2 separate regions of the Homo sapiens genome follow, and region 1 is linked to region 2. Evidence: fine-mapped expression QTL. Tissue or cell type: whole blood. Region 2 holds a variant in brackets; the other region holds the start of a gene. All regions are shown on one strand. Distances are from middle to middle.

The links. PIP is the estimated chance that this variant, and not a neighbour inherited with it, causes the effect.
Region 1: CYLD-AS1 starts here. The variant in region 2 is fine-mapped to the expression of CYLD-AS1 in whole blood (INTERVAL, PIP 0.96).

Annotation. Positions count from the first base shown.
Region 1 is chr16:50,739,088-50,747,273 of GRCh38, reverse strand. CYLD-AS1 (CYLD antisense RNA 1) reads left to right here and starts at 4,527. Exons shown (of 7, transcript NR_184279.1): 1 at 4,527-4,603; 2 at 5,870-5,946; 3 at 6,480-6,594. It overlaps CYLD (CYLD lysine 63 deubiquitinase), which reads right to left and starts at 5,188. Exons shown (of 19, transcript NM_001378743.1): 1 at 5,150-5,188; 2 at 4,433-4,512. MIR3181 (microRNA 3181) reads right to left here and starts at 4,969; the gene lies at 4,897-4,969. RefSeq lists an enhancer at 4,434-4,533 and a silencer at 4,774-5,373.
Region 2 is chr16:50,760,118-50,768,303 of GRCh38, reverse strand. The region is part of intron 5 of CYLD (CYLD lysine 63 deubiquitinase); the gene reads right to left. Among named protein-coding and RNA genes, the nearest start is that of CYLD-AS1, 21 kb to the right of the region's middle. The variant T/C (reference allele first, on the strand shown) is at 3,286.

The DNA.
Region 1 (8,186 bases), 21 kb after region 2:
CCAGGTAGTGAAATATGTTTGTGTGTTTGAAAACACAAAGCAACAATCGTGAAAAGAGGAATGCATACATTCTGAAAGGGTCTTTAGGAGCAAAGGGCACATAGGCTTTATTGAATAGAGAGTCTGGTCACTAGCAGAAGGTTAAGACAGTCAAAAAGCAACTTTCAAAAAAACGAGCTGTTGTTTTGGTTCTCTTTAAAATGTATTTAGATTTTTAGGGCCAAAATTTTTTTGAAAAAGGTAAAGTAATTCTATTTTGAAAAGAAATTCTTTTTTAAAATTCCTAAGAACAATGTCTTCAAATATTACAATCAGAAACTTCCCTGAATCTTAATAATTGCTTTATACCAACAGCTCCTACTCTATTGGTCCTGTAGCTTAACTATTCATGTCACAATTTAAAATAAAAATCATTAATGCTAATAATCTATTATTAAGACAAAACTAAATTACTATATGTGCATTAGGACATTATGTTAAATAAATTTGATTATAAGCTTGCTTTCTGAAATAATTTAAGGAAGAGAATCCACAGTAAAAATTGATATAACTGCTAGGTTTATAAAAATGTTTTAGGGTAATAAACTATAGCTTTCAAGTACCATATTTTAAAGTGAACTCTACAAGGAGTGGTAACTTTTTTCCTAACTTTCATTAGCACAAGTGGAAATGAGCTTAGACTTAGCAATAGGATGGGTCATGTTAGACAACTAAAATAGTCAAGCACAAGTTATCAAATATTTCAAAAGCATTATCCAAAAATAAAGGATACAGCCTTTCCTCTTTCAGAAAGAATATATTAAGAACAAGTTTGAAACTCTCTTATTAAAAATTGATTCTCTTCACTGCAACTGATAGAGAAAGTTGAATGGGAAACTTTACGGCTCGAGTCTAGAGATATACAAGGCAATCAACTGAATGATCACTAATATTCTCGGCCAGGCACAGTGACTCACGCCTGTAATCCCAACACTTTGGGAAGCCAAGGTGAGTGGACAGCTTGAGCCCAGGAGTTTGAGACCAGCCTGTGCAACACAGTGAAACCTCATTTCTACAAAAAGTACAAAAGTTAGCCAGGTGTGATGGCATGTGCCTGTAGTCCCAGCTACTTGTGAGGCTGAGGTGGGAGGATGGCTTGAGCCCTGGAGGGAGGGACTGCAGCAAGCCATGATCACGCCACCGCACTTCAGCCTGGGTGAAAAAGCAAGACCCTGTCACACACTCTCTCACATATATACACACTCCATTATATATATATATTTATTTTATGTACTCAAAATACCAGTATTGCAATAAAAATATGCTAACATACATTTCTCCCCACTGTAGAAGTGAATATAACACCAACAGTCTACTTTCACTGGGATGTGCATAGTAGTTAAATAGTTAAAGTCTTAGGTACCCCAAGCAGTAAAAACTGACTCAACACAATATGAAGGGAAAGATCTAAATCACATTGTAAATGAGTTATTTATCATCAAGAAGGTTGGTTTGTTAGTTTGGTATTTTTTACGCTTTCAGTACAGAGTTAGATACTGAAAACTACATCATCTAGGCTAGGCACAGTGGCTCACTCCTGTAATCCCAGCACTTTGGAGGCTGAAGTGGGAGGATCCCCTAAGCCCTGGAGTTCAAGGCTTTAGTGAGCTGTGATAGCACTACCGCACTCCTGCCTGGGTGACAGAATGAGAGCCTGTCCCAAAAGGAAGAAAAAAAAAGAAAAGAAAATTAGCCGGGTGTGGTGGTGTCTGCCTGTGGGCCCAGCTACTCAGGGTCCCAGCTACTCTGGAGGATGGGAAGATCGCTAGAGCCCAGGAGGTCCAGGCTGAAGAGAGCTATGATCACACCACTGTACTCCAGCCTGGGTGACAGAGCAAGACCTGGTCTCAAAAAAAAAAAAAAAAAAAAAAACAAAGAGGAAAGAGAGAACACACACAAAAAAAAACCCAACATCAATCCACATTCACTCAGCTTCTGCCTTTAAGTAAAGGCCTAGGGAACAGTAAGACAACTGAAGGAAAAAGAAGCACAGCTAAATTCAAAGTCACCGTAGGGCAGGTGGGGGTGAGGGGTCAGTGTGAAGGGAGAAATTTTCACTTGTATTCTCTTATTATTTTGCAGGTTGAATCACTTTGAGTGAGTATATCACAAATGACTCATCTAAATACTATCTTACTTCAGGCTGGATAACTGTGTGATTATGAATATCTTGGTAATAAATACTGAATGAAAATTACCAACGAGTTGAAACACAATAATATGTTTAACCCTAAAGCCATGTTGAACAGAAGGCCTTTCCTTTAAGGACGCTGATGAAGGAGAACAGTTCAGGTTCACATAGATTTGAAAACATTTCTGGTTATCTGAGCTTGTTGATGGTCTGGATTCTGAGTAAAGGGGAACTTACTTGTATTAAGATGAAGTCATTCAACCAAGACGAGAGTTGGAAGGCACAAATATTTATCAATTTTCCATGAAGACAATGGAAAGATGATCAGGAAATATGTTTTACATGAAAATGTTAAAGATTACAATTACCACATTCTGAAAGGCAACATATAGTACAAATGAACATCAGTAGCTACAGAAAACTAACAATGGTTAACTTATCCAGAAGATGCAGTGTTTTTCTGATTCTCAAGTTATCAGGTTATATTGTTCATAAGGATCTCACAAAGACAGATCCAATTCAAGAGCTTTTTGCATCTCCAAAGATATCCTGCTTGTTCTAAAAACCACAGGAAGCTATTTAAATTAGAATAAAACTTACAATACTTAATTCTGCCCCTAATTATAAATGGCAAAGAGGTAGGAAGGTCAGCTTGAACACCAAAGAAAGAAGACATGTGGGCCTTTTTCCAAAAGCTTCTGGATAGCTAGAATGATCATCCTTTTAAAAGAGAACATCTCTCACTAAAAGACAAAGTTGTTATATTTCTAAACAGCTAAAGAATAGAGATACAGAGATTCCGTGGCCAGAAAAAAGACTGAGTCCGTTTTAATTTTCCTCAATGACTAATTTGTGTCACAAGTACACAGTCCCTAATACAAGTGGGATTTATAAGGTTAAAAAAAAAAAAGAAAAGAAGAGCCTCTCACATCTGCATATTCCCACTGGAACAAGGAATACTGCTGCCTCTCTAGTGTTAAACCTAGCCACTCCACTGCCAAACTGTGAATTCCCCAAGTCCTTCATTTTTATATTATCCAGTGCCCACACGAGAGCCTGGCATATGCTAGGCACTGAATACAGAGAAATGAATGAAAGACTCAAGTGGTAACAGTGAAAACAAAATTGCATTTCCTCCTCCTGTTTAAGGGATTAAACCAAGAGAAAGAGAAGAGAAAAAGACTCAGGAATTGGGAGTATTTAATGAATTTTGCCTAAAACTTCAGTAATTCTCTAGATAAAATGAAATCATGCTAAACCACTTCATTGTTATACATATAAGAAGAAACAAATACGGAAAATTTCACAATTACGAAACCAAGTTGTTTTGAGGTTTATTTGATACTAGCTTCCTACAGCCTCAACTAGCATGTATGATGCTTATAAATTCTGTACAACCAATGAAAAAAAAACTAATTTAAATCATAGTGTGAAAATCAGGAACAAAATACTAATAGTTTGATAAACAACATAACTATTCCTTTCTCTCTCCCTGTGTTGGAGACTTCCTTAAATCAAACAAAACCACAGTTTAGGTGTGCCAGACTATAAAAATCATTGCTGCTTAATGTTAGTTGTGCTTTATATAACAAGCCTTATCTGCTTCTCACAAAAGTTACCACCCAGAGGAAGGTTTATTTGCAAGAATACTATACAATTTTGCAGCAGAATATTAGAGAATGTTCTGGGTGTTACTTCAATAAGAATTTCCAGCAAATCATTTTCTCCTAATACTGTTCTAGTTCAAATCCACCTACTGCTCAGTGGGGAATGGGAGGCTAAATTCTTAAGGCCATTCAGTCTACTTGGGGCGTGAGGGGGTGTGTAGAAAGCCAACAATCAAACGAACACCCTCTCAAGGCCTGGGTGCTTCTCTGAGAGCCAATGATTGCAAAATGAACAATCTTATTAAGATCCCTAATTAGCCCGAATTCAAAAGCAAGGTAGGCATGCTCCTTAGCTGAGCTAAGGATAAAACTTTCCAGGAAAAATTGAGGAGAAGAAGGTGGCAGGGATGATGGGGGCTGGGAGACTGCAAGGCCACAGGCTTGGTGGCTGGAAGATGACAACTATCCTAAAACATTCAAATGCCAAGGGGTGGAAGAGAAACGATGCCAAGTACATGAATAACCGGCAGCTGACCCAGCTGAGTACCAAACTCAACACCATCTCCTGAAGATTTCATGACTTCGCCCCCGCCCCCCATTCGCCCCCCACCCCCCTCGATTGTTAACATGAAAGAAAAACATAAAGAAAGAATACCTGTCACAGCAGGGCGCACCTTTCAACTAAGGAACTCCGGGTGGCTGTGTAGAACCATCCTCACCCTAGAAAGGGGGAAACTGAAAGAAAAAGCAGAACACGCCATTAACAAGGCCAGAACCCCGACTGCCATTCCTGGACGGGAGCCACCAACACCCGCAAAATCGATCGGTACGTACGCCCCGCGGCGCGGTCGGTAGGAATCACAGCCCCGGGCTCCTGAGGCCAACCGTGGCCGTCGGGGCCCGCCAGCGGCCTGTGCCTCAGTCTCCCAATCTGTAAATGGGGTGGGGGGCGGGAGGGGGACAGCGTCCCGCGCGGCTCCCGCCCCAAGTCCTCTCTCCTCTGGGGGTCCCGATGGTGGCGACCCCGCACGCTCCCCGGACTCGCAGCCCTCCCGGGAAGCCTCGGGGGATGGGGAAGCCCCGGTGGGGGGGGGAAACCCGGGCTGACGTCAGCGGGCTCGGCAACCCGCGGGCCCGGCCGGCTCGGGCCCGGGCAACTAACGGGCCGGCGCCGAGGGCCCGATGGTCGCCGCGGCGGCTCCGGACGCCCTGAGGCCAGGCGGCTGCGCCGAGGGGATCCGGCCGCCCGCCGGCCGCCAGCCGCCCGCTCATTCACTAACCTCGGGCGGCGGGGCGTCGCCCCTCGCCCCGGCTCCCCAGCCCGCGTCCCGGGCCGGCCCCGGCTCCCCACACCCACCGCCCTAGTATTTACCTCCGACGCGCGGCCCCCGCGCAGCCAAACCTGCTACCTGGGCCCGCCCCCACCTGCCCCGCCTCCGAACCGCACAGGGAAGAGGGAGGGAGCGGGGGCGGAGGGGGCAGCCGCCGCGCTAGCCAATCGTAGGCCGAGCTGCGCTCCTGAGCGGGCCGTGATTGGGCCTCCCTGTGACAGACCTTCCTCCAATGGCTGCCAGCCCGGCGCCGGCCGAAGGGACTTTCCGCTCTGTCAAGCTCGGTGGAACCAAAGGGAAAGCGAAGGGGCGGGGCAGAGAAGAGCGGCGGATGGAGGCGGGAAGCTCAAGCTGATTGGGCGAAAGGCTGTGGGTGCCGCGTCACCATTGGCTGATGCTGGAGCCGGGGCGGGGCGCTGCGCTGCCACCAGCTCCGCCTCCCGTGCTCCCGCCTCAGCTGTCAAAACTGTAGACGCTTAGGTTTGGGCTGGGTTAAGAGTCCAGATGAAGGTTGAAATAGGATTCCAGGATGCCGTGAGAGAGCAAAGCTTTAGAATCAGACCTCAGTTTGAATCTTTGGCGCTTTCATTCAGTGGCTGCGTGACCTGAGGAAGTCACAACCACGCTGAGCCTCAATGTCCTCATCTGTAAAATGGAGATCATAGTATCGGTTGTCTTACAGGATTGTGGCAAAATACCGAGCTAAAGTTCCTGGCACGCAGTACCAGCTCAGGAAAGGTTCATCTCTTCCTCCTCCGCAGATTCAGCCTGGGACGCTTGCTGTTTCCGAACCTCTGTTGCCACCTATCCCAGTTTGGAGGGAATTTTCCCAAGGATGGTGAAGAAGGGATTTCCACACGCCGCCTCACTCAGCCCCGCACCCCTGGCCACCAGCCAGGACTTAGGGTGTAGTTAAGGATCTTTCAATTAGAAGGGAGGCTTCTGATTCCCAAAAGCACTCAAAATATTTAAGGAAGTGCTTTTTATAATCAGTCCTAGAGCCTTGCTGCACTGGATACTCCTGTTAATTAATTTCTTCTCCTTTGACATTTTAAGTGCTAATTATAGGAGAAGGTGATTAACACTGAGAAAGGAGGAGGGGTGTGTGTGTGTGTGTGTGTGTGTGTGTGTGTGTTTTTAATCATGACACAAATTTCCCCCAGTGGAAAGTGACATGTTTCTGGAGATCCAGGGAATTTAAACCAATGAATACATAAAAACAGTCACATGAGTGATGACTAACAGTAGCAGTAGACAGGCCACCACTCTTCCTTGCCATAGTCATCCAAAATGAAATGAGCATCTTTTGAAAACCTAAGCCTCATTCTACTCCTGTCCCTCTTTTGTCACTCCTATCTTCCTGTTTTCCAGGCTTCATGACCACACTGCTGTAGGAAGCCATAAGTTGGAAATCAACGGGCCTGGCTTGAAGTGTGGCCTTAGGCAACACCGTTCTCATCTACATCTGGATTCTCCAACAAAGCTGGTAGGACTCAGAGGTCACAGTCCAACTGTCTGGAAGAAAATTTCAGCTGAAATTTGTTTTTGCCTAACCCATACGATAAGGAGGAAGGAGAAAAGAATGTGAAGGAGAGAGATTTGGGGTCCTTTTAGGCAAGGCAAACATTCTCATGTTACCACTGGGACCACTTCTCTTATCTGCACGATCTACATCCACTGGTCCCTTAAGGCATCTGAGTTTGCCACTCTGGACTAGAATATTTTCATGTCCCTTCTTTTTGTTTTTGTTGTTGTTGTTGCTGGGGTGTTTGTTTGTTTGTTTCTTTGTTTTGAGACAGAGTCTTGCTCTGTTGCCTAGGCTGGAGTGCAATGGTGCGATCTCAGCTCACTGCAACCTCCGCCTCCCAGGTTCAAGCAATTCTCCTGCCTCAGCCTCCCAAGTAGCTGGGATTACAGGTGCCTGCCACCACACCCAGCTAATTTTTGTATTTTTAGTAGAGACAAGGTTTCACCATATTGACCAGGCTGGTCTCAAACTCCTGACCTCAAGTGATCTGCCTGCGTCAGCCTCCCAAAGTGCTGGGATTACAGGCATGAGCCAATGTGCCCGGCCTATTTTTGTGTCCTTTCTGTTGATGGTGTTTGGTGCTGCTGAGGTCTCTACTTCCATAGGGCTTTCGTCCCCAGGCTCTGTCCTGTCATACGTTCACTGAATCAGTGCCGGGGCCTGACTTCATCTAAGGGATCTTCATCCAAGTCAAGCCTGACAAATGGGGCTTATCTCAATTATCATTTCCTATCAATTGGGAATGGCTGCTTAGAACATTGCGTTAAAGCTAATTCTGAACTTATATTCAGGCTCACCGGGAAGAGAGATATCTGCCAGGGGATAAGATGGGGAGATAGTGTCATGGTGCTATTATTTGCAGTCCTTGGTGAACCAGCCTCTCATTTTACAGGTAGTAGATGAAGGCCCAAAGACAGTAAATTACAAGCCCCTGTCACTCAGGAGATGGGCCGAGACCCTGATTCCAAGCCAAGACTCTTTCCACCTCTGTTAAAATGGATTCCCCAACTGAAATGCTCATCATCTCTGCCTTCCAAATCCTCCCTTCATGGAGGACCTAGTCAAAGTCCTTTACAGACATGTCTTCACAGAGGGCTCCAGCCCTCACTAATGACCTCTCTCAATCCACCACCCCACAGCCTCTTCCATCCAGCCTGGTCCTGGGTTCATGGAACTAGCGGTTGTGTTACTGAGCAGGTTCCAGGAAACATAGCAGTGTACAAGAGAGATGCCACACTCCCTCTGGCAAAAAAAAAAAAAAAAAAAAAGGCAAACTAAAATACTCATTAGATGATCACTTACTTAATTATGGCTGTGGTAAGCCTCAGAAGAAGAATCTCTCTGAGCATGCCTAAAGGGAGGTTGGCCACTCAGGGAAGGCCTGTTTGAGGAAGTCACCTTTGAGATGAGATGGGAAAGATAACTGGCAGGCAGGAGTGAGGGGGAACACTCCAGAAATAGGAAACAGGAAAGTGCATGACCTGTTGAAGAAACTGGAAGAGGCAGAGCGCAGACAATGAAGGCACAAAAGAGCCTTGGGAGCCAAGGAC
Region 2 (8,186 bases):
TCATTTAAGTAAACTAAATTAATTTTCATTTAAACAACTTTAGTTTTTAAAGTCTATTTGCAAGCTTTATTTTGTTGACAAATAAGTGTAATTTATGTATTATGTTATAAATGCTGGTATCATTCTTAATTATCTCCTATTGAGGGTTTATGAAAATCAAGCTTTAAAAGAAAAAAAAATATCATTCTTTTTCTTTCTCTTCACTGCTCTGAGCCAGCAATAATGACAATGATAACTACTGATTTAGAAGATCAAAGTGTGCCTGACAAGTGACGCCCAAGATATTCATGTAACTAATTTTAATTATCTCAATCCTCCACCAATATTTTAATAAAACAAAACCGTAAATGTTTTTAAGATAAATACTACTAATGAAGAATTCCTTGTCAGGTTATATTCCAGGAAAAATAGAAAGGGTGGTTTTTTTCTTTGCTTTGCTTTTTAAGTGCTACTGTAGAACCCAAGATAATTTACATTTCAAACCAAATTGAGATGTGGAAAAAATAGACAGAAGGAAATACAGCTCTAGAGTGTGTGTGTGGGAGAAAGCACTTCAAGTATTTATTCTACAGCCAACTGAGAAAAACAATCAATTATACATAAGCCAACTTCATAGTTCAGGTATCTCAATCTTAAATTATAATACTAAACTAATGATTTCCCTAGTCTCCTAACTTATTCAGTATAATGAATTGCATTCAGTTGTAAAATGTAAAATTCAAAGAAATGCAATTAAGGTAGGTAAAGAGAACGGTTACTTTCAATCTAAAATGCTTTTTTTTTTAATTATTTTTTGAGCTTTCAAAAGTACTCTATGGAAATTAAAAAAAAAAAAAATTGAAACCCACAAACCCACACAGGCACACCCTGGAGATATTGTAGGTTCTGTTCCAGACCACCACAATAAAGCAAATATCACAATAAAGCAAGTCACACAAGTGTTTTTGTTTCCCAGTGCATATGAAAGCTATGTTTACACTATACTGTAGTCCATTACGTGTGCAATACCATTATGTTATTGAAAATAATGTATATACCTTAATTTTAAAAATATTTCATTGCTAAAAAATGTTAATGATTATCTGAGCCTTCAAGGAGTCATAGTCTTTTTGCTGGTGGAGGCTCTTGCCTCAGTGTGGATGGGTGCTGACTGATCACGGTGATGGTTGCTGAAAGTTGGAGTGACCGTGGCAATTTCCTAAAATAAGACAACAATGAAGTTGGCTCTTTCTTTCATAAAAGATTTCTCTGTAGCATGTGATACTGCTTGATAGCATTTTACTCACAATAGAAGTTCTTTCAAAACTGGAGTTAATCCTCTCCCAAGCCCTGCTGCTTCTTTACTAAGTTTATGGAATATTCTAAATCCTTTGTTGTCATCTCAACGATGTTCACAATATCCTCACCAGGAGTTGATGTCATCTCAATGAACCACTTTTCCTTTCTTCATCCGCTCAAGTTTGATCATGAGATTATAGCAATTCAGTCAAGTACATTTTCAGGCTCCACCTCTAGTTCTAGCTCTTTTGCTACTTCCACCACATCTACAGTTATTTTTTCCACTGAAATCTTCAGTCCCTCAAAGTCATCCATGAGGGTTGGAATCAACTTCTCCCAAACTCCTGTTAATGTTGATATTTTGACCTCCTCCCATAAATCATGAATGTTCTTGATGGCATCTAGAATGGTGAATCCTTTTCAGACAGTTTTCAATTGACTTTGCCCAGTCTGTCAGAGGAATCCTGATCTATGGCAGCCTTACAGAATGTATTTCTTAAATAAAACTTGCAAATAGAAATTACTCCTTGATCCATATGCTGCAGAACAGTTATTGTGCTAGCAAGCATGAAAACAACATTAATCTCCTTGTGCATCTCCATCAAAGCTTTTGAGTGACCAGTTGCATCATCAATGAACAGTAATGTTTTGAAAGGAATCCTTTTTCTGAGCAGTAGGTCTCAACAGTAGACTTAAAATATTCAGTTAAGCATGCTATAAACACATGTGTTGTCATCCAGTCTTTGTTGTTCCATTTATAGAGCACAGGCAGAGTAGATTTAGCATAATTCTTAAGGATTTTGGGATTTTCAGAATCCTGGCTTCAACTTAAAGTCACCAACTGCATTAACCCCTAACAAAAGAGTCAGCCTATCCTTTGAAGCTTTGAAGCCAGGCATTGACTACTCATCTCAGCTATGAAAGTCTTAGATGGTATCTTCTTCCAATAGAAGGCTGTTTTGCCTACACTGAAAATCTTTTATTTAATGTAGCCACTTTCATCAATTAACTTAGCTAGATCTTCTGATAACTTGCAGCAGTTTCTATATCAGCACTTGCTGCTTCATCTTGCACTTTTCTGTTATGGTGATGACATCTTTCCTTAAAGTTTATGAACCAACCTGTGCGAGCTTCCAACTTTTCTTCTGCAGCTTTCTTACCTCTCTCAGCCTTTCAGAATTGAAGAGAGTTAGGGCCTTGCTCTGGATTAGGCTTTGGCTTAAGGGAATGTGCTGGTTTGATCTTCTATCCAGATAACTAAACCTTTCTCCATATCAGCAATAAGGCTGTTTTGCTTTTTTATCATTCATGTGTTCACTAAAGTAGCACTTTTAATTTCCTTCAGGAAATATTCCTTTGCATTCACAACTTAGCTAACTTTGGCACAAGAGGCCTAGTTTTCAGTCTCTCTCGGTTTTCAACATACCTTCCTCACTAAGCTTAATCATTTCTAGCTTTTGATTTAAAGTGAGAGATATGCAACTCTCTCTTTCACTGGAACACTTAGAGGCCATTGTAGGATTATGACTTGGCCTAATTTTAATATTTTTGGGTATCAGGAAATAGGGAGGCCCAAGGAGTGAGAGAGACAGAGGCCCCACTAGTCAGTGGAGCAGTCAGAATACACACAACATTTATCAGTGGAGTTTGTCATCTTATATGGGTGTGGTTTGTGGTGCCTTAAAACAATTTCAATAGTCACCTCAAAGATCATTGATTACAGATCACCATAACAGATATAATAATAATGAAAAAGTTTGAAATATTGCAGGAATTACCAAAATGTGACACAGAGACACGAAGTGTGCACATGCTATTGGAAAAATGGCATTGACAGACTTGCCCAAAGCAGAATTGCCACAAACCTTCAATTAATAAAAAACACATATCTGTGAAGCACAATAAAGAAAAGCGCTATAAAATTAGGTATGCCTGTATTTGATTTCGTAAGACAAGTGAAATTACATTTAGCCATGTTACTCTGGGAAAAACAATATTAGCATAGAA[T/C]TGGTTATCCCTGCAAGAATACATAAATAATGAAAGAAAATTTGTTTTTCAAGTGATTCCCCCATAGCTATCCAGCAAGTTAACATTATAAAATGAGCATAACTCCTAGAATTTGCTTAGGACACAGTGTCTCAAGCTCAGTTCTACTAAGGTTCTGAACCAGATAATTCTGTGTTGTGTAGGGCTGCCCTGTGCACTGTAGGAAGTTTAGAAGCATCACTGGTCTCCATGCATTAGAGGCCAGTAGTACTCTCACCTCAGATGTGGCAATCAAAAATCTCCAGACACTGCCAAATGTCCCCAGGAGACAAAAGCATCCCAGGCTGAGAACTACGGGCTTAGACCTAAAAAATGCACTAGTTACACAGTAAAAATAGTAGCATATTTTAAACAATAACAAGTATATCTAGAAAGAATTAAGAAAGCCAAAAGTTGGTCCTTTGAAAAAATGAAAGTCAGAAACCACTGGTAAGATTGGTGAAGAATATAAGAAAGCACAAATGATTAACATTTTGGATGAAAATAGGAACACAAGGGCAGATGCTGCTGAGGTTGAACAGAAAATTAAGAGGCTTTTATAAACAACATTATGCCCAAAGCTTTGAAAATGAATTAAATGGATACATTCATAAAAAATAAAACTTGCAAAAGACAATCAAAAACAAACAAATGTTAAAGGATATTTCATCAGTAGCTAAACATTTCCACAAAAAGAAGCTTTGTCAAATAGTCAAGGAATAGGTAATTCTAATCTCACATAAACTCTTTCAAATAACAAAATAAAAGAAACCTTTCCCAGGTACTTTATGAGACAAGCACGACTTTGATTCCAAAACCAGACAAGGACAGCTAAAAGGGAAAAAGTATAGGCCAATATCTCTTATAAACAGAGATTTTAAAAACAGGATGCAAATACTAGCAAACTGGACCAAGCAAAGTATGAATCATGAGGAGGTTGGGTTTACATCATGGATGTAAGGTTGATTCAATATAAGAAAATTAGCAGATTAAAAGAAAATAGGATTATCTCAATAGAGAAAAAGGGGTTGATAAAATTCAACATCAATTCATGATAAAACTGTTAGAAAACTAGGAACAGTAGGTAACTTCTCTAACCTGATAAATGACAGATACAACAATAAAACTCTATAGCAAACATCACATTTAATAATGAAATGTTGAAAGCATTTTCTTTAAGATCAGAAAAAAAGGCCAAGATGCCTTCCATCACTACTTCTATTCAATATTGTATTTAGAGGTCCTAGCTAGGACAGTAAGAAACCATTTTTAAAAATAAAAGAATTCAGAAGAGGCAAAACTGTTATTATGTGCAAACTATAATGACTGAATATTTTATAAGTAATCCATGGATTGTGAATAAGATATTTTAGTAAGTCTGTTTGTAAGAAAAATCAGCACACGAAAGTCAATTGAAAATGACTTCATTCCCACTAGGATGGCTAGAATAAAAAAGTCAGATAATAACAAGTATTGACAAGGACATGAAGAAACCAAAACGCTTACACACTGCTAGTAGGAATGTAAAATGGTGTGGCTGCTTTGGGAAACAGTCTGGCAGTTCCACAAATGGTTAAACATAGAGTTATCATATGACTCAGCAATTCCACTCCTAGATATAAACCCAAGAGAAACAAAAGCATATGTCCACACAACAACTTGTACATGCATGTTTGTAGCAGCATTATTCATTTTAGCCAAAAGGTGAAAAAAAAACCTAAATATCTATCTACTGATTAATAAACAACATGTGATGTGTCCATACAATGGAATATTATTCTGCCTTAAGAAGGACGGAAATTCTGGCACATGCTACAACATGGAGGAACCTTGAAAACATTATGCTAAGTGAAAAAAGTAAATCACAAAAGACCACATATAATGTGATTCCATTTAAATGAAATGTCCAGAAAAGGCAAATATGCAGAGACAGAAGTAGACTGGTAGTTGCTTAGGACTAAACAAGGATGAAGGGTTTGGGAGATGATCACTAAGGGGTGCAGCGTTTCTTTTAGAGGTGATGAAAATGTTCTAAAATTATCTTGACAATTGCACATGTCTGTAAATGCACTAAAATGCACTGATTTGTACACTCTGAGTGAATTATAAACTAGATCTCAGTAAAGCTGTTTTCTAAAAAAAAAGTCAATTGTATTTCTACATCAGCATGACACTGTTAGAAAATATGCTTTATAATGCATCAAAATGCAAGTAAGCTCTTCATGGAGAAAATTATAAAATTTTACCAAAAGGAAATTAAATAAATGAAAGGATACACAAGGTTTATATATTAGAAGTTTTAATATCATAGAAATGTCAATTCTCCTCCAATTGTTCTACAGATTAATTGCAATTCCAAAATCCTAACAGAACTCTCTTATAGTATTTGAGAAGCTGATAGTTAAACTTACAATGAAGCCCAAAGGCTAACAATAGCCAAGACATTCATTAAGAAAACAAACAATGGAAATGTACTCTCACAGCTACCAAGACTTCTAAAGCTATGGATAGGCTTTAGTGTAGGGAAATGACAGGGCTCAGAAAGATCCACACGTGTACATCTGGAAACTTGATTTATACGCAGCAAGCATGGAAGGTCAAATTGGATATCTGTACCCATATTTCATATCCTGTTCAAAACCAAATCTAAGTGAATAACACACTTAAATGTAAAAACGCAAAACTATCAAGAAGACTACTATTTTGAAAACAGTATAGAACAGGAAAATTCAAAAGAACAGTGAGAGGAGACTAGTGTTAATAATATTAAAACACATAAAGAATCACACGTGGAAGCAGAGTGTGGAAAGATGAATAAAGGGGGCTTGGGGTGGCGGGGGGTGGATGATGGGAGGTTGCTTGGTGGGTATAATGTGCATTGCTCCAGTGATGGATGTGCTGAAGGCCCTGACCTCACCACAATGCAATACAGTAGTGTAGCACAATTACACTTGTACCCCATGAATATATACAATTTTTTAAAAATCATTAAGAACAATGTGGTATTGAAACGTGGGAAGACAGAATAGAAAGTCCAGAAATATACCACGCTACACGTGGAAATTTAGTATGATGAAAGTGGCCTCTCAAACCAGTAAAGAGGGACTTTTTAATAAATGATACTAAGACAACAGGGTATCTTCTACCTGTGGGCAAAAATAAAAACTAGATTGGATTTATATTTCACATCATATACCACATAAAACAGAAATGGGTCAAAGATATAGATAGATAGATAGATAGATAGATAGATATAGAGATATGTACTAAAACCACAGAGTACTAGAAGAAAACACAGGGAAATTCCTTTATAACCTTACAGTAACTCAAAATCCAGAATCTATTAAAACTAAAAGAATACAACAGCATAAAAATTTTATAAATCCTGCAAGGCAAAAAGCACCAAAGTCAAAAACATCACACCAAGTGAAATGCACCAGCTCCAAAGGACATATGTATGATTCCACTAATATGAGATACCCAGAGTAAGCAAAGTCATAAGGACAGAGAGCAGAGAACAGAGATGAGCAGAGGCTGGAGGGAAAGAGGAACCGGCAGCTATCTCTTCATGAGTATAGAGTTTCTATTTGGGATAATGAACAAGATTTCTGGAAATAGATAGTGGTGATGGTTGCACAACTGTAAACATACTTACACTGAATTATACACTTAAAAATTGTTAAAATGGTACATCCTGTTAGGTATATTTTACCACAATAAAAACAAATGAGGGTGACCAGAAAAATAAGCAATTTTAAAAAAAGACAAATGACAAATGAGGGTGGAAGAGTGGGCAACATTTGCATCTCGCATCACAGAAGAGTTTGCCACCCTAACACATGAAGAAATCAGTGAGAAAAAAGGCCAATAACCTAACCCAATTTAAAAATAGGCAACAGATGCAAACAGTTCACAGAAAGAAAAATTGCCCTTAATCATATGCAAAAATGTTCAACATCACTCAGAGAAATGCAAATTTCTATTTGCAAATGTATTATATACACTGAAATATATTTTTTATCTATCAGATTGGGAAAAAAGTTAGTAACACACTCTCATGGGAAAGCTATAAGTTCCCCCTTGTATTCTACTGGCAGGAATATAAATTGTTATATCTACGACTGAAGGCAATTAACAATATCCAGAACAATACCAACGCATACGCCCTTTCATCAAGCAACTCCACTTCTGGGAATATATATATCCTCCAGATATGCTAGCACATGTGGGAAACAGACATGTACAGGTTACGGTAACATTGTGTGCAATATCAAAAAGTCAGAAACAACCCAAATGTCCATTGATAGGAAACTGGTTAAATAAATTATGAAATTTTTTTCCGTACAATGGAAAATTATACACTATAAAAAACAAGAACCTCTGTTTGCAAATATACAAAGAGTTCTAACATATAAAATTAAGAGAATAAAGCAAACAGCAGAATAGTGTATCTACTACACTTCTTGAATTAAAAGGGAAGGGGGAATAAGAATATTTATATTGTATAAAGAAACACTGGAAAGATATATAAGAAATTCATAAAAACTGTGACTAGTGAGAAACGAAGGATGGAGTAAGCAGGCAACTGAGGCAGAGGGGATAAAAATGGAAATGAGATATTTTATTGTACTTTTTAATTTTGATTTGAGATACATGAATGATTTCTTCTTAAAATTGTTTTAATAACTTGATAGAGGTTTCTAATTCAAGGGTATATATATATTAGTTAGAACCCAAATAAATCCATATGTATGTCATTATATGTGTGACTTCTATCTGAAATGAAAAAGAAAACCCTAAATACTTATCTCTAGTTAATTAGATGCACACTGAAGTATTTAGGAGGAAGTGAACTGGTATCTGCAACTTAATGTGAAATGCAC